6 separate regions of the Homo sapiens genome follow, and regions 2, 3, 4, 5 and 6 are each linked to region 1. The links come from fine-mapping of genetic effects on gene expression. A gene starts in region 1. Each other region holds a variant in brackets. All regions are shown on one strand. Distances are between the middles of the regions. Region 1 holds the start of SIRPA (signal regulatory protein alpha). Region 2 has its middle 92 kb from the start of SIRPA. Region 3 overlaps SIRPA (signal regulatory protein alpha). Region 4 overlaps PDYN-AS1 (PDYN antisense RNA 1). Region 5 has its middle 82 kb from the start of SIRPA. Region 6 has its middle 54 kb from the start of SIRPA.

The links.
Region 2: its variant is fine-mapped to the expression of SIRPA in whole blood (TOPMed, PIP above 0.99).
Region 3: its variant is fine-mapped to the expression of SIRPA in whole blood (TOPMed, PIP above 0.99). The same link has a PIP of 0.9 or more in monocytes.
Region 4: its variant is fine-mapped to the expression of SIRPA in whole blood (TOPMed, PIP above 0.99).
Region 5: its variant is fine-mapped to the expression of SIRPA in tibial artery (GTEx, PIP above 0.99).
Region 6: its variant is fine-mapped to the expression of SIRPA in whole blood (TOPMed, PIP above 0.99).

The regions. Positions count from the first base shown.
Region 1 is chr20:1,892,989-1,897,074 of GRCh38, reverse strand. It overlaps SIRPA (signal regulatory protein alpha), which reads right to left and starts at 1,668. Exons shown (of 8, transcript NM_001040023.2): 1 at 1,549-1,668. The coding sequence starts at 1,627. LOC102724545 (a long non-coding RNA gene) reads left to right here and starts at 2,825. Exons shown (of 4, transcript NR_186374.1): 1 at 2,825-2,956. RefSeq lists an enhancer at 508-1,023 and silencers at 2,315-2,434, 2,445-2,704.
Region 2 is chr20:1,800,955-1,805,041 of GRCh38, reverse strand. No RefSeq gene overlaps it. Among named protein-coding and RNA genes, the nearest start is that of SIRPA, 92 kb to the left of the region's middle. RefSeq lists a silencer at 1,421-1,670. The variant G/C (reference allele first, on the strand shown) is at 1,695.
Region 3 is chr20:1,935,501-1,939,587 of GRCh38, reverse strand. SIRPA (signal regulatory protein alpha) reads right to left here. Exons shown (of 8, transcript NM_001040023.2): 8 at 1-2,268. The coding sequence ends at 2,020. Among named protein-coding and RNA genes, the nearest start is that of PDYN-AS1, 9.7 kb to the left of the region's middle. RefSeq lists enhancers at 1,413-1,965, 1,966-2,520. The variant C/A (reference allele first, on the strand shown) is at 1,747.
Region 4 is chr20:1,960,675-1,964,761 of GRCh38, reverse strand. The region is part of intron 2 of PDYN-AS1 (PDYN antisense RNA 1); the gene reads right to left. Among named protein-coding and RNA genes, the nearest start is that of PDYN-AS1, 16 kb to the right of the region's middle. RefSeq lists an enhancer at 1-200. The variant T/C (reference allele first, on the strand shown) is at 1,940.
Region 5 is chr20:1,811,350-1,815,436 of GRCh38, reverse strand. No RefSeq gene overlaps it. Among named protein-coding and RNA genes, the nearest start is that of SIRPA, 82 kb to the left of the region's middle. The variant G/A (reference allele first, on the strand shown) is at 2,117.
Region 6 is chr20:1,839,418-1,843,504 of GRCh38, reverse strand. No RefSeq gene overlaps it. Among named protein-coding and RNA genes, the nearest start is that of SIRPA, 54 kb to the left of the region's middle. The variant C/A (reference allele first, on the strand shown) is at 1,809.

The DNA of each region.
Region 1 (4,086 bases):
GAACCACAGCCTCCTGGTCGGAGAAGGGTCTGGAATAGACATTTAGAAATTAACTCGGGCCCAATTCCCTGCTTCAGGAAAATTAAGCACTTGTGAGTGACACTTGTGCATTTCCAGGCCAGGAAGGATGGCAGGGCAGGAACTCGGACTTTTGCAGGGTACAAATGGCCAGCTCAGGCAGGAAGGAGCAGATAGGAGATGCCACTCACTGGAGAGACGTGAACTGTATCAGTGCTCCCTTCAGCCCAGCAAGGACGCAACTATAACTGAAAAGAACTGGGGGTGGAGGGTGGGGTGGGGTGGGGGGATGCCTATGTGAATTCCTGGGTTTCAGGGGAAACTGCAGGGCAGAGAGAAGCAGCTGTCTACCCCCCATACTTCTCCTTCCACCCACTCTTTGCTAGTTCTCCCTTTCTCCCTGCTATCAGATGGTTACCATCTCTAGTCAAACGCAAAAGGGGGTGTTGGACACTGAGCTCATCTTTACCTCCCTCCTCAAGGGTGGGAGGTACAGAGAGACCCCACTGCCTACAACACAGTTTCAAGACGACAAAAAACAAGATCCCCATTTTTCTCTCCCTCCCAACTCCCTTAATGCCATTTCTCTGCTCCCCCCGCCCCCCACCCGGTGCCCTCCCAGGAGACCCATGGTTTTGCAAAACCCATTTAAGAAGCAAGACTCCTGAATGGTGACCTCACCCTTTGGTGAACATGCACAGTAGCCTTCAGAGCCCGCCTGCCGGCGACAGCCAGGTGTTTGATGTAGGCCAACAGAAAGACATGGTCAGAGCCACAGGTAACATCCCCGCGGAGCACCTGAACTGCAGGGAGCTGCCTGGAAGCTCGGGGAAGGCAGGAGGAAGGGGGAGCTGGGAGCGCCTCAAGGAGCAAGACCACCAGGGAGAGGCTTTGGCAACCACAGGGACAATCCACCGTGTTTTTACATAAGGATCTGTTGCTCGCAGCAGCTCGCTCTGGGGTTACCGCGGCCTCCCGGCTCCCTCTCTCCCAGGCACACACTAACACCGGTTTACTCTGCGCACCAGAGGGAGGGCTCACTCTTCCCTAATTGCAACAGCTTGTCTCTGTTCCATTCCAGGCAGCATCGGGAGGACCTCTGCCCTCACCTCCTCCCCTCACACCCTGAAGTCAAACATGTGGAAAGTCGTATGTCCATGGGGACAGATTCTGGGGAAGCCGGACGGCCCTGCTCTGAAAGCCACTGTCAGTCAGCCTTCCCCATTGGACCGGGCAGGGGCTGAGTGAAGCAACTCGGCTCTTTTGTCTCAGTGCCCAGCACAGTGCACAGAGTCAGAGTCCACAGAGACAAACTCTCATAGAAGAGACTTGGGTTCTACCCTTGGCTGTGTGACCTTGGGCATGTCGCTGGCCCTCTCTGGGCCTCAGTTTCTGCATCTATAACCCTGGTTACAGGCGTCTCTCCCCCTATTACTGCTCGGCATTAGCCGAAGGGGTCCCAGTGCCAGTCTGAGAGGCCTGAGCCCGCAGTTTGGGGAGTGCAGCGGTGGGGAGCGGGGGGGTGCTTACCTGACCAGGCGCAGGACGCGGCGAGCAGCAGGCAGAGCAGCGGCCCGAGGCGGCCGGGGGCCGGGCCGGCGGGCTCCATGGGCCGCGGCTGCGGAGCGAGGAGGGAGAGCGGCCGTGAGTGCGCGCTCGGGCGGGAGCAGGCTGGAGCGGGGAAATGACTAAGGCTCCCCCCCTTCCCCCCTCCCGGCTGGGCCTCCCCCCGACTCCGGAACGGGCGCCTGGAGCGGCCGCCGCCGCCGCCGCGGTTTTTGGAGACCCCCCCTCCCCGCCCCCCAGGAGAAATGGAGAGACGGAGACTGGGAGAGACCCCAAGCGCGCGAGAAATAAAGCCAGGGGCGGCCAGAGAGAGGCGGCAGGAGAGAGAAACAGACCCAAGGGAGCCAGGCAGAGAGCCAGAGACACGGAGAGGCGAGAGGGGGAGAAAGAGGGGGAGAGCGAGGAGCGAGGAGCGAGGCGGCGCGCAGACCGACAGACCGCGCGGGAGAGAGGACCGCGCGAGCAGGGGCGAGGGGCAGCACGGCCGAGCCCGGCCGCGCGGAGCCGCCCCCGCCGCTGCCCACCTGCCCCGCCCGGGCTCCACACGGCGCGGGCGGCTGGGCTCGCTCCCGGCCCGCAGTCCCGGCCGCTGCCCCCGCCCTCCCGGCAGCCCGACCCCCTCCCTCCTTCCCTTTCCCCTCCTCCCGTCTTCCCGCCGCCCGGGGAGGCTTCGGGGCTCCGGCCCCGCCGGCACCTTCTCTGCGAGCGAGCGCCCGCCTGCGCGCCCCGGGGGAGGGAGCGAGGGCTGCGAGCTGCGCGCCCGGCCGGGGAGGGCAGCGTCCTCCCCCGCGCCGGCGCCCGGGCCCCGGCTGCTGTCCCGGGAAGGCGGCCCCGCGAGCCGCCGCGGCCCGCTGGGGCTCGGGACTAGACGAGCCTCCGGCTCCGACAGCGTGCCCGTTCAGAAGCCCGCGCGGCTGGTCCCCAGCCCCGACCGGTCCCGCTCTGCCCCTCCCCGTCCCTGCCGGGCCCGGACCTGCGCCGCCCGCGAGGGCTGGAAGGCACTGGAAGCGCCGCCGGGGCTGCCCAGAGGCCGGGTCCCCGCTCCACTTTGCGCAAACTTGTTTTTCTAAGGTCAGCGCTGCGAGCTGGCTACATCGTCCTCTTAAGGTGGACCGGGGAAGTTGCGGCCGACCTCCCCTCGCCTCCGGACTCCGGCCGCGCGGCTGCTCCCCGCTTCCCACTGGCGAGAGGCTGGAGGCGGCGAAGGAGTCGGGGCGCGGGGGCGCGGGGGGCGGGGGGGCGTCTGCCTTTTAACCCTCCCCAGGAGGTCGTGCCTCTGAGCCCCAAAGCTGAAGGCCCCTCTTGGGGGTGGGTGCGGGCCGGAGGGGCCCGATCCTTTCAGAGCCGGGCCGAGGTGAAGGAAAAGAAGGAAGTAAGTGAACGCAGGGGGAAGGGGAGAGGAAGAAGAGATGATGGTACAAAAATAGCGTGTGTGTAGGAAGGACTTCGGTGCCGCCTGGAAAAGAGGCGCGGGGAGGAGAGGGAGCGAGAAGGGGGCTGTGGCGCGCAACCAGAGGGGAAGGGTCGGGGCCTTCCCAGGGAGGTGGAGGCCCCCTGGCCAGGTGTCTCGGTGGTGGAGGGCGGACTGGGCGGGTGGGAGGCCCAGGCCGGGGCGTGTGTGGGAGAGCGGGGCCCTGAAGGCCTGGGTTCCGGGAGAAGGACAAGCCCTGAGGAAGATGAGGGGAAGGGGAGCCGGGGCCAGAGGCCTGGAGTTGGAGAGGACAGAACCCCGGTTTTCCCGGAGGGAACGCCGTTCCTGTAGTAGCCAGGTCAGTGATGGGGAGTGCCAGTGTCGTGGTCACCTGGCAGAAGGCTCCGCACTGTGGGAGGAACACAAGTTCAAGACCCCGCTGCTAATGGGAGAGAATTTTGGTTCACACAGTGGCGGTTAAGAGGACAGGAATGACACAAGGTGAGAGAAGGCCCAACCCTGTAAATGGACAGAAAGTTGAGGCCCGGAGAGGGAATAGGTTTGCTTAAGGCCACACAGCAAAGCTTGGGGTAGAAACAAGATTTGAATTCCTGATTCCCAGGTTAAAGACCTGTGCAAAGTAACACCACTGCCTCCCCTCCTGCCCCGAGCCTCCTGGTGAAGGCATGGCCCTGCTGTTGTGCAGGGGGGCAGGGAAGGTGCCACACTTGAGAACATGGGCTGAACTCCGTGGGTTCAAATCCCCCGGCTACTGTTATGAGCTGGGTGGACTGGAAAGTGCCTTACCTCTTCTGTGCCTCAGCTTCTTCATCTGAGACGAGGCCAGCGTGAGTCTCAATTGTGAGGATTTGATGAGTTAATATTTGTAAGACATGTTAAAAAGAGCCTAGCACATACCAAGTGCAACATAAGCATTTGATAAATAAGTGAAGTGTTTGACAACAGTCCTTGAGAACCCACAGGGTTCTGGGCAGCATTTGAAGTGCAAGGGAATTTTCATTTCTCTGGGTGTGGGAGAGCACGAGGTCCCTGTCCATGAGGAATTTATATTCTACTAGGGGAGACAGGTA
Region 2 (4,087 bases), 92 kb after region 1:
GACATCAGGTAATGTTGGAGACTTGGTGTACGTCCTCAGGAATGTCCTAGAAGCCAGGAGGTCAGATGAGGAGGGGCAAGCTTAAGGCCTAAGCAATCAACTTCCTCCTTGAACCTAAGGCTGGCAAGGCAGGAAGGGCACCCACCCTCTGGTCCAACTCCATCCACGCAACTCCTTCAGTGGCCATAACAACACAACTTCCCATCACACCTAGAATAAAAGTCCAGCTCCTTGCCGAGACCTGCAAAGCCTGCTACCCCCAGCTGCTGACCATCTCCAGTCTCCTTACTACTGCTCACTGAGTTCCATCCTTATGTTCATGAAACCCCACATCTACTCTCCCACCTCAAGGCCTTTGCCCTTGCTGTTTTCTCTGCTGGACACGCCCAGCTCTTTGCATGGCTAGTTCCTCTCACTGTGCAGGCCTCAGCTTACTCTCTTGCACAGAGACGTCCATTGACATCCTTTTAGGAGCAGCTCCTGTCTAGCCCCAGCTCTCTCTTGGGCGTGTCACCACTTTACATCCTTCCTAGTACAGCCAAAACTGGTGTAATGGAGTGTGCAAAAGCTTCCACTTGGGGCTGGACTGGCTGGGTCGAAACCCAGGCTGGGCCCAATATTCTCAAGTGCCGAGCCTACCTACTGCGCACTTGAGGCTATTGTTCAACCTGGTTCCCCACATATCGTGCAACCTGTTGTTTCTCCACCTATCGTGCAACCTGTTTCTCCACATATTGTTCAACTTCCTATTTCCCTTCAATAGATTATTCAACCAGCATTTTCCTATCTGTACAAGGGAGTGAGGATTACATGACCTAATGTGCATATAGCATAGAGCAGAGCCTGGCATAAGCGCTGCATTGGTGTTTGCTACGATATTAACACTTGTTGCTATTTGAAATTATTTTGTCTGTATGTTTCTTGTTTATTTCCCTCTTCTCTCTGACAGGCAAACTCCCCACAACAGCCTCCTCAACGCTGCCTCCCACAGTGCTTGGACAAAATAATTACAGCAAGATGCGGGCACTGAGCTGACTCCTTATGTAGGACATCCCAGTGCAGGTAGAGAAACTGAGGGACAGTTGGAGGTTCCTTGCCCTTGGTGATGCGGTGAGAGGGCCTGCAGGCACCAGCCCGGCCGCCCGCACCGCTTCTCGCGGACCCCAGCGGAGCCGCGCTTCTCGTGCCGCTCCTGAGGGTTTCCGCGGCGCCGGCGTTTTTGTTCCCGGCGCGTTTAAGTCGTTGAGGCCGAATCAAGCGAAGGCGGAAAAGCGGCGCGCAGCCCGCGTCAGCTGCAGTTCCGTCCCCCTGGTTCCCGGTGCGCTAACAAAGGCATTTGCATGAAAACAGGAACCCCGTCTGCAGAAAGGACTCGTTGGCGGGGTGCATCGTGCGCTCCAGTGCCCCTACCGCGGCGCCCCGCTCCCCAGGTGGGGAAGAAGCGGGGTGCGGGGACTGGCCCCAAACACGGCTCGGCCGGCGGGGACCGGCACGCTGCGGCCCGGGCGACCCCCTTCTCCGCCCCTTTCCCAGGCCGGCGGAAACGGCCGTCTCGGGCGTGGGCGCGCTTCTGCGGACTCCTCGGGACCTTTTACCCAGGCGTGCGGCCGGGGCGCCCGGGGCCTCGGGGAGCCGGCGCCAGCGTGCGGAGCGCAGCGGAGCGGAGGGAGCGGCGGGAGCGGCGTCCGTGGCTG[G/C]TCCAGGTCTGGGGCGCAGCCTCCAGGCTCGCCCTGCGCCGCTCTGGGCCTCGGCCTCTTCGCCTGTTCGACCGGGGCGCAAGCGTGTCACAGCGCCTGTCTGCAGGGGGAAGCGGGCTTCCCAGAGGGGCGCGTGGCTCGCAGAGGGGCTCCGGGAATATCCGCTCCGTTGGCCCTTTCCAGAGCTTTTCCTTAGCTGCTTCTCCTTTGAAATCCGCCTTTTTCCCAGCAGCCCTTGGAGGCAGGATAAATTAAGTGGTAAAAGCAGAGGATTAGGAACCGGGAACCCTGGATTCAAATCCTGCCCGCCGCTGACCAGCTTTGTAACCATGAGCAGGTTACTCCGCCTCTGGAGGCCTCAGCTTCCCCGTCTGTAAAATGGGGCCTAACACAGTCCAGAAAGTGCTTAGTGCCGCAGTGTCACACACCGAGTGCTTAATTCATTCTTAAAATTATCACTTCCAGCTGTGGGACAGGCGCAGGGTAGAAAGGGGTTTTCTTAAGGTCACAGGCGGGGTCAAAGGCAAACCCTCCGGGTCCTCACAAGTAAGACTTGCGAAGCAGCAAGTTCCCCAAAGGGTCTTATCCAGCCGGGTAAGGAGCGCCGGGGCATCTCCCCCCTCTCTCTCCGCGAAGACGCACAAGCAATGGCTGGCGAACCTACTGCCTGGAATGGGGTTCTTGGGTCGAGACCTTTAAAAAAATAAAGAAGAGGAAGAAGAAAGAAAGAAAACAAACAAACATGCACGCAAAAACGGAATGCCAGAGCCTTTGATCTAGGAGCCAGCTTGCTATTCAGGGCCGACCACCGTCTCGCCGCAGTTCCTCCCCGGGAAGGAAGCCTCGCGCTGCCCTCCGGTGGCAGGCGAGGTAGTGTCGCCTGGGCGCAACTCACAAGCAGGGGTTTACCGGAGAAGCCAGCTTCGCTCTGCGCGGGTGGGGGCTGTGGGGGAGAGAGGAGGGAAAATCGGAATTGTTCCCTGACTGCTGTTTTTTGGTCCCGGTGGATCTTGGGAGTCTTGGAAAGAGAATAATAAGGCTCTCTGCATTTGAAAGGCATAGGAGTTTTTACATTCTGGTTTTATTTATTTTTGAATGGATAACACATTTACACGATTCAAAAGATAAAAAAGAGGATAGCGTGAAAAGGAAGTCTCGCTTCCACTCTTGTTCCCCAGGCACCCAGTTCCCCTTCCTAGAGACAGCCATTGTTACATGTTTCTGTGTACCCACCCGGAGACAGTCCATGCAAATGCAAGTATTTTACAGGATCAATAGTAGCTTGCTCTGTATACTCTTCTGCCTCTTGCTGCTTCGCTTAAAAATGCATCATGGAGTTTGTTCCATGTTGATTCACATAGGGCTGCCTCGTTCTTTTGAACAGCTGCATAATATTCCATTGTTTGGCTCTCCTGTAATTATTTGATCAGTGTTCTATTGATGAGCCTTGAGGCTGCTTCTAATCTTCTGTAATCACAGTGTGTTACAACAAATAAGCACCTACATGCATTGTTATGCCTAGGTGCCAGTGAGGCACATAGCTATTGCGGTATAACAAACCACTCCGAAATTCAGTGGCTTTAAATAGAAAGCTTTTGGTATTGCTCATGTGGGTCAGCTGGGTAGCACTGCTGATCTGGGCCAAGCTCAGCTAACTTTGCATTTGCTCCTTGTGTCTGGGATCAGAAAGGGTGGGTCAGCTGGGGCTGGTTTATTTAGGATGGTCTAAATCACATGTCTGGTAGTTGACTGGCTATCAGCTAGGGTTAGAGGGGTGTTCAGGCTATGTGTCCGTCAACATCTGATAACATGCAGTGCCTCCTGAGACTGTATAACTGGTGTGAATTTACATCCATTACATTCTGTTGGTGCAAACATGTCACAAGCCAGCCCAGATTCAAGAGGTGGGGAAATAGAAATCACTTCTCCCAGGGAGGAGCAGCAAAGTCACACGGCAGAGTATGATGCAAGGGCCCTGAGGTATTGTGGCCATTTAAAAATATATTTATAATGTTATAGTTAGCATTATGGTGATAACATTACCTTTGGATATAAACATTACCTTTGCCATTACCTGACAGACGTTACCTCAAGCCTCAAGGCTCATCAACAGAAGACTGATCAAATAATTAACAACAATAATAATTAACAACAACAATAATTTCAACAGAAGACTGATCAAATAATTAACTAGGCCATCAGGGTTGACATTAAGTGATATTGATATTGATAGCATATTCTCTTGATATAACTTTTTGAGAATGACACTGTACCTCTGTGGTTTTCCTCCCCCAAACCAGTCTAATAATAACCCCAGTCTAATAATGAGAATAGCCTCACAGAATAGCCGCTATGCACAGCCTCCACTTAAGGGATGGGGAGTTATGCTTCAC
Region 3 (4,087 bases), 43 kb before region 1:
TTTTAAAATACTGAATGTGTGTGTGCATGCGTGTGCACACGTATGTGCTGTCTCTGGGTAAAAGAGAGGGAGACGAAGGTTTACAAGCCAATCTTTTGGAATTTGGAACTAGCCTGAGCCAGGTGGCTGGGTCACTGTGGCTCCCAGATGCCACACGGGAGCTCTGGCCAAAGCTGTCCACATGGTCTGTTGGCTCAGCTAATTCCTGGATGCCATCATTGAAATCACCAGGTGACCATCCCCCAGAGAGCTGGGTCTATGCTGAGCTCCTGCAGTTTCACCTGTAGGACCTCCAGGAATGGGCAGGATGGCTCAGCTACTTTTACAGCCTGAGCCAGAAATCCCTTGGGCATCCCAAGGCCAGGAGTCATGAACATTAGCGTCTCAACTCTAAGAGTTATAGTGAAGACTGAATAAATAGGGCTTGCGACATCTGCTTGCCCTGGGCCCGGTCAGGCCCTCACACCCGACTGGAAGGGTGGGGGTTAAAGGGTAACTGGGTCACACCCTCTGGCCAACCTTCTGGGACAGAGGGGGAATCAGCCCGAGCTTCACAGCTGCACCATCCCCCTGGCTGTCTTCAATTTATTCCAGTTTGATCCCAGTAGGGTTTGAGAGCAGAAATGGAAGATTTCTTCTTCAAGGATCAGCTCAGAAAGCCGGGATGGGGGCGGTCACTAAAGGGGTAGGATAGACGGCCAGGGCCACTATCCCTACCCTCTGTGTGTTCCTAAAGTGCTTATGAGAGGTGGTGGGGAGGGGTGTCATCTTCACTATCCCCACTTTACGGATGAGCAGACTGAGGCATTGGGTCTCGATAAGACTGCACTGTCAAGAGGCAGCCCTCAGCAGCCCTGGGCAGGCTGGACTTACCACAGCGGGGTCACAGAAGGCTGCACTACCAGCCGCGTGGCTCAGCTGAGAACATGGCCAAGTCAGTCCCAGCCAGAAGGCTGTGTCTCCAGGGAGTGGCTGACCTGATCCTTCTTGCCCATTCTTGGGGTTCTGGGACTTGGAGGAACTCAAGTCTTCGCTGTAAGAAAATCCCTCCAGGACAACAAACTGTTAAACCTCAGACTTCACAAGACCCAACCATGGACTTCAACACATGACAGACAGCCAAGATCACGTTGCTGTTGTTTTAAGAAAAAAAACAAAACAAAACACCACAGATCAAGTTTTCTAACACCTCAGTTTCAAGATTGCACGTTTCACATTTCTCAGTAATTTACAGGCGTCCACAGCGAGATGTTGCTTAGTGCTAGCTGGAGGGGCAAGCTCAGGTCTAGAAGGGAGAGATGGGTCCGGGTGGAGCAACACAGTTGGGCCCCAGGGAGTCTTGGAGGGACCCAAGGAAGCAGAGGGTTTTGTCTCCAGTCCTTTGGGAGGGGTCCTCTCCTCCTCCAGGACTCATGGCTCTTTAGCCTAGGGATGGGGGAGGCCAGGACTGTTGGCAGCAACCTCACCAAGCCTGGATATGGGTTCCAGAGTTTTTTTCCAGCTTTTCCATGGAAGGGGCAGTTTGATCTAAAGGGGAAATCTTCCCCACTCTAGCCCCAGTTGGGTGGTGGTGGTAGTGGTGGTGGTGGTGGTGGTGGTGGTGGTGGAGGTGGTGGAGGTCAGGGGAGGTGGGATTTTCTCCTCCCCACCCTGGAAGATCAGGCTTCGGAGCATCGGGGAGGCAGTCGAGGGTCTTCAAAACCCACATGGTGATGGACGGAGGCACAAGAGTTCTTGGACCCCAGG[C/A]AGTTCTGGCCACTTCCCAGGTTGGTTCCCTGGCTGGTTTGGCAACGTCAGCCTCCAGGTATGTGGCAATGTGGGGGGAGGGGGCCGTGGCTGCCCAGGAAGTGCTGGAGAGCCAAGGAGGGGTGGGGAGAGAAGAGCCACCCTGGCCCCTGGGTCCCAGAGCCTGCACCGCCCCAGCCCTCCGGGAACTGGGTTGGCTGTGCTCATCACGGCGGCTCCCTGTGGGACAAGAAAGCGCGTAGAGATGGGTGCTAGAGCAAACCACGGTCCCATTCACTTCCTCGGGACCTGGACGCTGGCGTACTCTGAGAAGGACGGCTCAGGCTTGGGGGCCGGCTGCTTGGGGGTCCGGTTGAGGTGGACCATGTCCAGGTCAGCATAGGTGAGGGTGTCCTCCGACGCGGGCTGCGGGCTGGTCTGAATGCTGGCATACTCCGTGTGGTTGTTGGGCTCCGCAGCCTGGGGAGCAGGCTTCTTCCCCTTGGGCAGGTTCAGGTCTGCATATGTGATATCATTTGTGTCCTGGATTTAAGATACCCAAAGAGAAAGTCATGAGAAGGTCATTCTATAGCCCCTGGCCCACTCACTCAAACTGAATACCAAGTCTGGATGCTTCTGTGTCCTCTCGGCCCACACTGGCTCAGCCATAAGTCATGTTCCCCTCATCTCTTGCCAACGTTACTTGCCTCCAGCCTTGCCCCTTCCCATCTGCCCTCCTCCTCACCCTGCCTGAAGGGTCTTTCTGACCCGCACAGTGCAGTCTCCTCACAGCCCCGCCTCAGTGTCACCTCCTCCCGTTCCTGCCTCCTCCTAGCCTGAACCACCTGCAGTCTTCACCCATTTCTCATGTTCATCCCTCGAGGGTGTCTGTCCTGCTTCTCCTTGTAACAAATCCCAATCCACCATGTAAATTTCAGATGAAGCATGGCTCATACTAAGACCCTCCCTGGCTCTCCCCTCTCCTGGCAGGGTCCATGTTCCTTCTTTGTGCTTCCTCAGCCCATGTTTGTTTTCCATCACAGGGCCCGCTACCCAGGACCATGTCTGTTTGGGGGCCTGAGGAGGTGCTGCTGATGGTGGTACGTGTGGGGACATTCATTAATGTATGCGTTTATTCCACAAATATTCACTGGGCATTTGTTATGATTCAGAAACCAAGGCTGGCACATAAGAAGTCTGATCCATATTGAATGAATATATGAGTGGATGGCAATAATTTCACCTTCACTCAGGGCAAAGCTGGGGACAGGGAGACAGAGAACAGGGGCAGTATAAGAACGAGATCGCCAGTTAGTGAAGCGGGAAACGTTCTGGAGTCAGAAAGCCTGGGTTTGAATCCTGGTTCTAGCTCAGGGATTTTGAGCAATTCACTTAACCTCTCTGGGCCTCAGTTTCTCCATCTGTAAAGAGGGGATGATAATAGTGTCTACTGCCAGGGTTGCTGTGAGGATGGAATGAGATTATCCAGGTAAAGCGTTTAGAACAGAGCCTGGTACCTATTGAGCATCTGTCTTCAATAAATGTTCGCAATCATTAACCACTTAGCAAACTTGGATACCTCCCATGTGCTAATCCTATCAACCTGCCACTGCCGCCTCAAAAGCGCCCATCATGAATGATAAACTTTGCTCCCTCTGTGACTGGCCCCTGCGTGATAGAACAGAATAAAGCTACCACCAACCGGCACACCTCCTAGTTGGTGCACGGTAATGGCTGATTTCAGTTCTCAGGGCTTACAAGCAGCACACAATCACATAGATCACCCCATCCACTCTTACCACAACCCTGCTTGGGAAGGATTATCTATTCCACTTTACGGCTGAAGACACTGAGACCAAGGGAGGTTCAATAAAGTGGACAAAGTTGTCCGGCTGGCAAAGAACCAAAGTGTGTTGGACTCTACGACTGTGCTCTTAGCACACAGCTCCTCTGTCCTGAGCCCTGCGTGCTCTCATTTGCTTCTGTCTGGGAAATCCGTGTTGACAGCGTGCAACTCCCTCCCTGGCCAGGGCTGGCACCTGGCACTGGAATCGCAGGCACTCTGCCAGCTGGGCTGTGACTGTCTGGCTCACTGTCCAGTGCGTGGCACACAGTGGGTGCCCAGTAAGTCTCTGCTGTGAATTTCGTAGAGGTTTCCATGACCCATTCTTCTCACCATCATTTTTTTCCCCCAGAAGATTCCAGGAGGAAGTCCAGAAGTAAAATGATGGGGGAGAAGATCTCCCTCGCTCATGACTGGAAATTGTTTTTTCTTAATTACAACTCGAGCTCATGTCCGGGGCTGCGGGGGGACCCCATGGGTCACAAGGGCAGGGCCAAGGCATTTTGGTCTACAAATGCT
Region 4 (4,087 bases), 68 kb before region 1:
TAAGAGAAGAGACATAGTATGGGCTTTATAATTTTAAAAAAACCCAGGAGGGATTTCAGGTAGTACGAAAAGAATGGGGGGACTGGAGTGAATGAATACTTGTCGAGCCCTTATTTTTTCCATGTGGCTCTTATTATTCTGTCAGGGACATTGAAACAGGAGTGACTCCATCTTGAATAGGGGCTGGGTAAAATAAGGCTGAGACCTAATGGGCTGCATTCCCAGGAGGTCAGACAATCTTAGTCACAGGATGAGATAGAAGGTTGGCAGGACTAGTATCACAAGATACAGGTCACAAAGACCCTGCTGATAAAACGGGATGTGGTTAAAACAAAAAAAAAAGAGCCAAAACCCACTGAAACCAAGATGGTGATGAAAGTGACCTCTGGTCATCCTCACTGCTCATTATGCGCTAATTATAATGCATTAACATGCTAAAAGACACTCCCACCAGCACCCATGACAATTTACAAATGTCATGGTAATGTCAGGAAGTTACCCTATATGGTCTAAAGCAGGGAGGAACCCTCAGTTCTGGAAATTGCCCACCCCTTTCCTGGAGCACTCATGAATAATCCACCCCTTGTTCAGCAGGTAATCAAGAAATAACTGTAAGTATACTCAGTTGAGCAACCCACGCCACTGCTCTGTGTGTGCTTTACTTTCCTAATAAACTCGCTTCCACTTTATGAACTTCCTCTGAATTCTTTCCTGTGCGAGGTCCAAGAACCCCCTCTTGAGGTCTAGATCAGGACCCCTTTCTGGTAACAATCACATCTTTACCTTAGCCTTGACAAATAAAGGCAATTTTTCCATTTTACAGATAGAGAAACAGGCTCAGAGAAGAAAGGGGCTGAGCTCAAAGTGACATCATTGAAAAGCAAAGGGCTAGGATTAAAAACCAGGCTCCTAATATCAACCTCAGTGTTTGCCACAGCACTGGGTCAACGGATCTACCGACACTCGTTCATCCATTGATTTATTCATCAAATGTTTATTGAATACCTACTATGCACCAGATACAGTTATAAGCACTGGGGATACAGCCACGTCCACAACTGGCTGAAGAAATTAGGGCTACAAATATTGCTGGGTGGGGAGGCTCAGATGACCAATGATATTTCTTTACTAACTACTTTCGTTTATCAGCTCATTCACCAATCCATTTATTTTTTATTTTATTTTATGCAAAGTGTTTACTGACTTATTTATTCATCCATTCTCTCAGTCACTTATTTTCTTATTTACTTATTCATTCATCCACTCAAACATTGATTCACTTGTTCATTCATTCTTTTGATCATTTATTTATTTATTCACCTGCTCATTATTTGCTCATTCTACTACTCCATCAATCATTTACTCATTCCTTCACTAATTCATACTCTCATGTGTCTGTAAATCTCTCCATCCATCCATCCTTCATTCCTCCTATACATCCATCAATCTCTCATAAATCCATCCATTCCCCTGTCCACCCATATCTCCCTGTCTTCTTTCTTTCCTTCCATTTCTCCCTCCCTCCTTCTTTTCTCCGTCCCTTCCTTCTTTCTTTCCATCTATGGTTCCTCCAGTCACTCCTCCATCAATCCCTCCCTTCTTCCCTCTATCCACCCCTACATTGCCTGTCCATTCTTTCAGGCCTCATGCTGACCCTGAAAATTAAGAAATAATACAACCCATTTCAACCTCCAAGGCACTTACCATCTAGTAGTGGTCAGTGACAAGAAGAAAGGGCACCATATCACTGTGATTAGAAATGAGACAAGAAGCTAGGGGAGGGTGGCAGAGAGGAACCCTAAGTCACCTGAGGGCTGGGAAATCCAGGCTGAGTCCTAAAGGAAAAGTCAGCCGCATTGAGCAGGATGGAGGCAGTGGGAGTTTCAGGCAGAGGGAATCGCATATATACACGCTTGGAGGCAGAGCGGGCACAGCGTGA[T/C]TGGGGACGGGCAAGTGTGGCTGGATCTTAGGAAGGGCAGGGAGGCAGTGGAGAGATCACACCCACTACTCTCCCAGGCATTGCTTCCTGAGATTCTTAGCTTTGTGTATTGTGAGGATGGCCACATTTGGTGCTCGGTCTACCCTAGTCCCCCTCTGGCCTCCTCCATCAGCTTGACAGGGCAGTCCTATAGGATTGCAAGAAATCCAGGCTACCCATAGTGTCGTCGGTAACAGGGCTCACCTTTCCTCATCACTGTCAGAGCCAGCAGTGAAGAGAACACTGCCCAACCCCCCCAGGCTTCCCCTTTGTCTGTGGTGATACCCTGGGCTGTGATACCCCCACAGAAACATCTTCTAGATCAGCTCTAGCACAGACCTCCCCAGCTTCCACGCCTCCCCCATGTCTGATAGGTCTCCAGGCCCTGCCCCTTTCACCTCTTCATCACCTCCTCCTTGTCAGCCAGACAGATATTTACCTAACTCTGACCCCCATTAGGCCAGCCTCTCCCTACCAGCCCTGTCTCTCACTTCTCTTCCTCTAGCGGCTTCCCCCAGACCCCACATGCCCATTCCTCTGCCTCCAGAGTAGCCTCTCTGAAGCTCCAATATCCTCATGCCATCCACCTGCATAAAATCCTTTAAGGATACCTTGTTCCAGGCCAGGGAGTCAAGTCCAAACTCCCTGGCCAGGCATACAGATTCTTTATCATCTGGCACATGCTATTTCTCCAGGCTTGTCTGGCTCTTACATCCTCACGTGTACTATCCTTGCAGACCAGAGCCCCAGACATTCCCAACACATCCCACTTCTACTCACTTTTGCCACCTTGTAACTGTTGGAACTTTGCCTGTGGTGGCCTTCCCTGCCTTGTCCCCCGAGAAGACTCTTGCTCATCCTTCCAAACCTGGTTGGGTGCATCCATCAGACCTTGTCAGGATTGCTATTTTACCAGTCATCATATTTCATTGCATATCTGTCTGTCTCCCTTCACTAGACCGCAAGCCCCTGGGAGACACAAGCCTTTTCACAGTCTTCACTGCTTTCTCAGTGTCTAAAACAGTGCCTGACACACAGAAGGTACTCACTCAATAAGCATTCTATGGACAAATGAATGAATGAACGAAATATCTCTATGGATGTCTGGGTCCTCTGAGATTGTGTGTCCAGCCTGGCCGCTTATCCTGCCATGGGAGAAGCTCTGCAGACATTGGACAAAGTCTCACATGACATCAAGTGGGGAAAACAATCTGGTTGCTTGGCATTTAGGGCTGGTTTCCAAGCATTTGTCTTGACAGGGAGATCCTGTCTGTAATGCTGGCTGGCAGATCACTGTCCTGAGGGTGGGATGGGCCGCCCAGAGGTTACCCAGCTGCTAGGATTATGGTAGTCAGGTGAACTCCGGAATCAGAGCCAGTGATCTCGGGGAGAAGGTGGTGGTGAATGAAGACTCATTCAGAGGTGCTAGCAGCTGCTGTCTGAGATTAATTCAGTGCTGCTGTGCATTGACATTCCATAGTACATGTTGGGAAGTCTCCACTCTCTACTCCTGGCATAAAGCGTCCTGACTTCCATTTTGGCCCACAGAGAAGGGACCACATGTCTAAGAGGCAACAAAATGAGATGCTAGAGCACAGCTGCCAGGGCTGCCCACCCCCACCTCTGTCTAGGAGATGACCTCGGCAAGTTCCAATCCGATAATTTCTGCCTCTTTAATTTGGGTGTTTAGACCATTTACATTTAAGGTGATAATTGATATGGTTGGGTTTAAATCCACCATGTTGCTATTTATTTTCTGTTTCCCCCATTTGTTATTTGTTTCTTTTTTGTTCTGCTTCTTTTTTAGATTAATATTTTTTATGATTCCATTTTATCTCTTTTGTTGGCTTATTAGCTATAATTCTTTGTTGAATTATTTTAGCAGTTGTTTTGGAGTTTATAATACACATCTCTAACCTATCACAGTCTGCTTTCAGATGATATTATACCACTTCACATACAGAATCAGAACCTTACAACATTATACTCCCATTTCTCCCCTGTTGGCCTTTGTATTGTTTTTGTTATACATAGTATTGCTTCATATATTATAAACTCCACAGTACACTGTTGTTATTTTTGCTTTAAATAGTCAAATTTGTTTTTAAA
Region 5 (4,087 bases), 82 kb after region 1:
GAGGAGATGATATCAGAGGGATAAGCAGGGGCTGTTTCCTATAGGGGTTTGGAGGTCAGGGTTAGGAATATGGAAGCCACTGGAAGGTTTTTAACAGGGGAGTGACATGATATAAATCCATATTCAAAAGATTACTAAGTGCTTTGAGTAGAAGAGACTACTGGGGGCAAGAGTAGAAACTGAAAGACCAGTGAGAGACCCCAGTGTTTCAGTGAGAAATGATGGTTGTTTGGATTTAGATGGTGGCAGTGGGTCCATCTGTTTGTCTACCGCTTTGTTCTTCCCTCCTTTCTTCCATTCTTCTATCTCTTCATCCATCCATTCATCCATCCACCCATCCATCCACCCACCCATCCATCCACCCACCCATCCATCCACCCACCAACCCATCCACCCATTCATCCACCCACCCATCCATCCATGCATGCATCCATCCATCCATCCATCCATCCATCCATCCATCCATCCACCCTCCCATCCACCCACCCACCCATCCATCCATCCATCCATCCACCCACCCACCCATCCATCCATCCATTAACTAAACACTCAGAGCCAGGGGCTGTGCTGGGTGTGTCTATGGGGAGTCAGGTACAATGCTGAGATAACAAGAATGAAATACACATGGTTCCCAGCCTAAGGGGCTTACAAAACAGCAGGGTACACAAAATTGCAATGTAATGTTATGAATGCTCCAGTTAAGGAATGCATGAAGCACCGAGAGAGCTCATGGGAGGTAATTCCCTATGCTCTGTCCTGGAGGAGATACTGATGTTTGAGTTGGGCCTTTCGAAGGACACGGGAGTTGGACAGGCAGCAGAAGAGTGTTCCTGGCAGGGGCACACAGCTTGAGTAAAAAGCAAGGAGGCAGCATGAGTGAGCATGGCCGGTTCTGGAAATGTACAGATGTCTAGGTTGGTTGAATCAACAGATGCGAGTGGGGACGCTGTGGGAGAGGAGTTTGGGTCAACTTGGGAAGACGTGGAGCAGCATATGCCCATGACTGGGCCTGCCCCTTCCGCTCAGCTCTGCCTGCCCCTATCAGAGCTGAATAATTGAATTAAGTACCAGCTCTTAAACAAGATGCAGCTGTTTAGCAGATGTTGCTTCCACCCCAGATGGAGGTGCATCTTGGCGACGGGCACAACATTTCGAAGGCGTCTAATTTGTGAGGCTGTGGAGAGGAAAGAACTTCAAGATGCTGGCATTATTATTTAATAACCATCATTAATTACACACTCCCTCCCTCCAGCACCACTGCATGTCAAACATTCCTGCCGGATTGGGACTGGGGGCACAGAGGCGGGCTGGCAGGTGGGCTTGGGGGTTGGACTTGCTGGTTCTGATTCAGAAAAACAAAAGAAGAAAAGGGAATAAAGTCATCAATCCACAAAGCCTTCAAGAACTTTTATAATAATGGAAAATGACTTCTCTTGCATTTTTCATAAAATGAGTACAAATAATAACTGCTATTGATTGAACCCCCACTCAGAGCCAGGGGCTGTGCTGGGTGTGTCTTAGACATTGCCTCCAATTCCCTAATCCTCCCAACAGCCACGCATGGCCCTACCTCAGGGCCTTTGCCCTTGATGTCTCCTCCGACTGGGAAGGTTCTTCCTTCAGACACCCACATGGCTAACTCCCCTACATCTTTCAAAGCTCCACTTAAATGTCAGCTCCCCAGAGAGGCCTTCCCTGACCACCACTCCCTGAAATAATGTCCTCCACATTCTTGACCTCCTTCCCTTGCTTTTTCTTTCATCACCTGATATACGTATATTTGTTAATTGTCTATTTCTCCCTTTTAGATTTTAAGCTCCCAAGGGCAAGGATTTTTGTTTCATTCACTGTGGCCTCCCCAGCACTCAAAACAATGCTTGACACAGGACAGAGTTCTTTTTTCTTTTTTGAGATGGAGTCTGGCTCACTTGCCCAGGCTGAAGTGCAGTGGCACGATCTTGGCTCACTATAACCTCTGTCTCCTGGGTTCAAGCGATTCTCCTGTCACAGCCTCTGGAATAGCTGGGATTACAAGTGCACGCCACCATGTCCAGCTATTTTTTTTTCTTTTTTGGGGGGGTATTTTTAGTAGAGATGTGATTTCATCATATTGGCC[G/A]GGCTGGTATCCAACTCCTGACCTCAGTGACCCGCCTGCATCGGCCTCCTGAAGTGCTGGGATTACAGGCATGAGCCACCGTGCCTGGCCCAGAGTTCTATAAATATTTGTTCAATGGGTGGGTGATTCATCAGTGGGTCTCATTAAAAAATGTGCAGAAGAGTGTTAGGGAGATAAAATCTCTTTCCCAGGCATTACACAGCCAGCAAAGAGCAAGCTGAGATTTGAATTCAGCTCTGTCTAATTCTAAAGCTCTGCTCTTTTCATTAAGGACTTTGTTTTTCTTCTCCAAAGAACTTATTACCACTTACATATTATTATTATTATTTTTGAGACGAAGTCTTGCTCTGTTGCCCAGGCTGGAGTGCAGTGGCATGATCTCGGCTCACTGCAACCTCCGCCTCCCAGGTTCAAGTGATTATCATGCCTCAGCCTCCCGAGTAGCTGGGATTACAGGCATGTGCCACCACGCCCTTGTATTTTTAGTAGAGATGGGGTTTCACCATGTTGGTTAGGCTGGTCTCGAACTCCTGACCTCAGGTGATCCAACACCCCCCCCCCCACCCCTCGGCCTCCCGAAGTGTCAGGATTACAGGCGTGAGCCACCACGCCCAGCCCACTTACTTATTATTTATCTATTCATGTGTTTAATGTCTGTCCTTCCCACTACAATGGCAGCTCCACTGAGGGCAGAGTTCATCTGTTCTGTTCACAGCTGAATCCCCAGCCCCAAAACAGTACCTGGCACCCAGGAAATGCTTTATAAATATACGCTGAATGAAGGAAAGAAGGTCTGGGATATGGGAGGCTGGAGGTGTTCACACCCTTGCTGGGTCTCTGACTGGGTGAGACGGTGGGGAGCTCCAAGATGTTTTCCACTTCCCCAACCCCTCCCACATACAGACTTCTTATTCACTCTTGGAAGCAATGCTGCAAGGGAAGTATTATCCAAACCATTTTACAGATGGGGAAATTGAGGCTCAATCAGAGAAATGATTTGCCTTTCTCAAGGTCACCCAGCTAGTAAGTGTCAGAGCTGGGATTTAAACCTAGGTCTCCAGAGTTCACTTGTCATGCAAAAGGGACCCTTAATGCTTGCTAGCTCTGCCCACCCAAAGGCAATAGCTAGAAGGTCCAGAAGGTCCAGTCACAATCTATGCATTTCCCCATCAAGGTCAGGGGTGTCAGGACCAATGTGAAACTCATGCTTAATTCACAACTCCCAGCTTTGTCCATTTAAATGAAAACTTTCATGTTATTTTAACCAAAATCCCCTGTCGACTTCAATGAAAGCTTTGAATCCATGAGGAAGGTCAGAAAGGGTTTTTTGGAGGTAGCACAGGCGCCCAGTGGAAATCATATTAGCATATTCATTATCATCAGGGCCCTTTGAATGTGTTTTTGAGCTGTTCCCTTCAAGTGACTGGAGACAATGGCTCCTTTCTGTTCACAAATTCCTGGGCTTGAAGTGGGCTGTGGCCAGCTCCTGTGTGCTTCTCTGCACTTTCCAAATGGTCACAGGGAACCCGTGTCGCATAAGGTAACAGGGAGGATGTCATCCACCAGGAGTGCTGGTGGTGAATGAGGCTCTTTGTCTGGGTTTGGAAGAAATATCTCCTCAAGTCACTTAGGCAGCTATGGTGGACCCCAAAGATGGGCTCAGGTAACAAAATATGTTGTTAAACTGTCTTCTAAGGAGGCTGGACCCTATTAACAGGAGATCCCTGAGTGTGGCAGAGTCAGGGCTGGGTCTGGGGTAACAAGGTAGTTGCTCAACTCTAGAAAGTGCCAGGATCACCCAGGGAGCATTTAGCAACCATCAGTGCCCAGCACCACCTCACCAGGCCATCTGGACCCAAATCTTGGCGAGTAGGGGAGTAAACAGGCATCAAAGGTTTGTAAGTGTCCCCAGATGCAGACAGGCAGCTAGTAAGCAGAGCAGAATGGCTCTCTCCTCGAATCAGAGGGGAG
Region 6 (4,087 bases), 54 kb after region 1:
GGAGAATCACTCATAGACGCTACATGGGACATAGCATCACCTCAGAGCTCTTTTTTAAAACTCACATACCTATGATCTGCATGGTAAGAGTTGCATGCAGCAGCTGAGTGAACTCAGTGAACCCTGAAAGGGCCCCTTGACAGCCACTCCCCCATCCTCTTTGCCCACCCTCCTCCCCGGTTCACCACTGTATGTTGGTGGACATGTTTCCAGGCCTTTCCCATATATTTACATCTGCACAGATATAACATGTGTGTCATAGGTATGCATCATACATCAATAAGATCATTCTCCATTTATTTGATAACTATTCATTGAGCACCTACTATGTGCCAGGCATTGTTGTGAGGCATGAAAAAGTGAGATTCCTACCCTCCAGAGCTGACACTCTAACAGAGTAGCCAGCAGACAAAGCTAAAGTATTCTTCCAGGTAGTGATATTAATACATGTTATGAAAGACATACATTTAGGTAAAGGGATAGAGGAGGATAGGAGTGGGGTTGTGGGGGGGTGCTTTCAGTCCAGGGGGTCAAGGAAATGTCTCCTCTGAGGAGACATTTGACTTGAGCTTGGAGGATGGGGAGGAACAAGCCCTGCAGATATCCAGGACAGATTCTTGGTAGAGAGGACATTGGGTGCCAAGGCCCCAAGCATGGCATGAAATTAGTGGGTTGGAGAACGAGTGAACAAGCCAGCAGGGCTGGAGCAAAGTGAGCGAGGGGAGGGGCAGGAGATGGGTCAGGGAGGCGCAGTGCAGAACATATGGGGTGGCATGGGGAATGCAGGTTGGGGCATACAACCAGAGCCTCAGGAAGATGGAGCAGAGGAGAGGACTGAGCTAGGATTGGTTTCATTGGGGTTTTTTGGTGCAATTTTTTTTATTGTGGTAGAATATACACAGCATAAAACTGGCCATTTTAACTATTTTTAAGTGTACAGCTCAGTGGCATTAAGCACATTCATATCACTGTGCAATCGTTACCATCATCCGCATGCAGAGCTGTTTTATCTTTCAAAACCGAAACTGCACCCATTCAACACGAATTCCCCCGTCCCCCAGCCCCATTCTACTTTGCGTTGCTATGGATTTGACTACTCAAGATGAATCATATAAGTGGAATCATGCAGTATTTATCTTTTTGTGTCTGGCTTATTTCCCTTAGCATAATATCCTTGAGTTTCATCCATGCTGTACCGTGTGACAAAATTTCTTTCCTTTTTAAGGCTGAATAATATTCCATTATATGTATATACCACACTTTGCTTATCCATTTATTCATCTGCCAGTGGACACTTGGGTTGCGTCCTCCTTTCGGCTATTGTGAATGATGCTGCTATGAAGATGGGTGTGCGGATACTTATTTGAGACGCTGCTTTCAGTTCTTTTGGGTATAGAGCCAGATGTGGAATTGCTGGGTCCCATGGGAATTCTTTGACCTGGTATTTTATGTAACAGAATCCAGGGGCTACCAGGGGAGAACAGCCACCACGGAAGGGCAGAAGCTGGGAGGCCAGCCAGGCAGCAGTTGTTGCAAGGCGCCTTGTCTTACGTAACAACCCATCCTGCAGATCCCTCCAGGGTGGCACAGGGAGTTCTGCCTGTCTCTTTAATGATTCAGGGCACTTTCACTTTCATCCTTTATTTGGGTTCATCCCAGCTCTGGAAGTCAGGTGGGAAAAGGCCTATGATCCCCTTGGAGAGACAGGGACAAAGGGGCTCAGGGAGGGAGAGTGTCTCAGCCAATGTCACTGGGCTCTAGGACGTCCTCTAGGACGTCCTTCAACCCTGGGCCTGCCTTGGGACTGA[C/A]TCTGGGGGTAGATGACTCCCCTGTGAGTCTCCCTTCTATTCCCTACTCCTGCCAGGCAAGGCTGGGCAGCTGGAGAGAGCTCACAGCCAGAGCCTCTCTGCCAAGACATTAATGAGCCTGAAATCCAACTCAGGGTATCCCTGGGACCTGGAGAGTGAGAAGGAGGCAGCACCCTAATTAGCCACCATTCTTCTCACCTGCAGCTTAGGTAGCCCACCCCGACAGCACTGCCTGAGGCTGGGGGTGTCTCCCAGCAGGCTTAGGAGCCCTGAAACTGGCTGCTATTGGCTGTGTGTCCTCTTTCTGTGCCTCAGGCCCAGGAATGCATCCTGAGGAGGACAGTGAGAATTCCATCAGAGCCACAGGAAGTCACACCCCACCCGGGCTGGGGTCTGACCTGGGTTCAGGCAAATCTCAGGGCCCTGCCTCTCCTGGGATCAGTTCCTCCCTTTTTAAACTTTCACTTTTTGGCTGATGAAGCTTTGTGGGATGAAAGGAGGAATGGGAGATGCTGCTTCCTTGGGTCGGGGGAGCAGGATGGAGAAGGGGCCAGGCCCTGTCTCGCTGGTTTCCCTCCCTCCTATAGGCATCCAGGTCCCAGTCTCTTCTGCCCATTCAGCCCCTTCCTCCTTCCCTTCCTTCCCTGCATGATCTGTCCCGCCCCCACCAGCTTAGTCAGCTCAGCCACAGGGACCTCCTTGCTTTCTTCAAACAAACCAGGAGTGGGCCTGCCTCCGGGCCTTTGCACTCACTGTTTCCTCTGCCTGGAACTCTCTGTCCCAGATTCTATCTCATGCCTCCTTTACATCTTCACTAAAATGTGGCCTTTTCAATGAGACTTTTCCCGACTCTCCTGTTTAAAACTACAAATTGCCCCACTCCTCCCTGGCAGATCTCCACACCCTTCCCTGCTTTGATTTTTTCCACAGCACTTGTCGTCACTTACCACTGGCATATATTATATTCAGTTACCATTCTCTTTCCTCTAGATTGCATGCCCTGTGAAGGCAGGAATTTCTCTCTTGTTGGCTTCTGCATCCCCAATGGCTGGCACAGAATAGGAGCTCAGTAAAGATGTGCTGAATGCACAATTTCAAGGACCATCCATGGCCATTGCCATCACCCTGGTCCAGCCTGCAGCCACCCTTCCCCTGGATGCTGTGACAGCCCCCAATGCTAGGCTCCCGATGTCCTGTTTTGCCCCATCCAGGCAGTTTCCTGCCAGCAGCCAAAGTGAGCTACTTAAAATGCGATTTTGACCAGATGATCCCTGATAGAAACACTTTTGTGGGTCCCATTTTATGGAGAATGAAACCCACAGTACATCACTCAGTCTTCAAGTCCCTGCCTGCTCCGGCCTCCAGTTACTCTCAAACTCATCCCCTGTCTCCTCCCTCCATTGCAGCCACACTGATCTCCTTGGGGCTTCTTGGCCACATGGAGCCCTGCTCTGACCTCAGCGCCTTTGCACCTCCTGTTCCCGCTAACTGGGACACTCTTCTCTCTACCCTTTCTGGTCAGTTCCATCACATTCCTTCTGTCTCAGGCGAATGTCACCTCCTCAGAGAAGTGTTCCCTGACTACCCTAACCGGTTCCTCCACCGAGTCACTCTTAGCTGTTGCTTTGTTCCTATATTTATTGTCTTCCGAGTCACTCTTAGCTGTTGCTTTGTTCCTGTATTTATTGTCTTCCGAGTCACTCTTAGCTGTTGCTTTGTTCCTATATTTATTGTCTTCCGAGTCACTCTTAGCTGTTGCTTTGTTCCTATATTTATTGTCTTCCGAGTCACTCTTAGCTGTTGCTTTGTTCCTATATTTATTGTCTTCCGAGTCACTCTTCGCTGTTGCTTTGTTCCTGTATTTACTATCTTCCGAGTCACTCTTAGCTGTTGCTTTGTTCCTATATTTATTGTCTTCCGAGTCACTCTTCGCTGTTGCTTTGTTCCTGTATTTACTGTCTTCCGAGTCACTCTTCGCTGTTGCTTTGTTCCTGTATTTACTGTCTTCCGAGTCACTCTTAGCTGTTGCTTTGTTCCTATATTTATTGTCTTCCGAGTCACTCTTAGCTGTTGCTTTGTTCCTGTATTTATTGTCTTCCGAAGGAGACTGTGAGCTTCCTGAGGGTAGGTCCTTGTTAGCTTCCTGTTCTCAGCTCGGAGGAGGCACATGGCACATAGTAGATGCTCAATAATATTGTCTGGCTGGATGAATGAAGGTGTCTGAGCACACGCAGCCATTTTCCTCGTTATTCCTCCCTGTCCTCACAAGCTAGGATTGT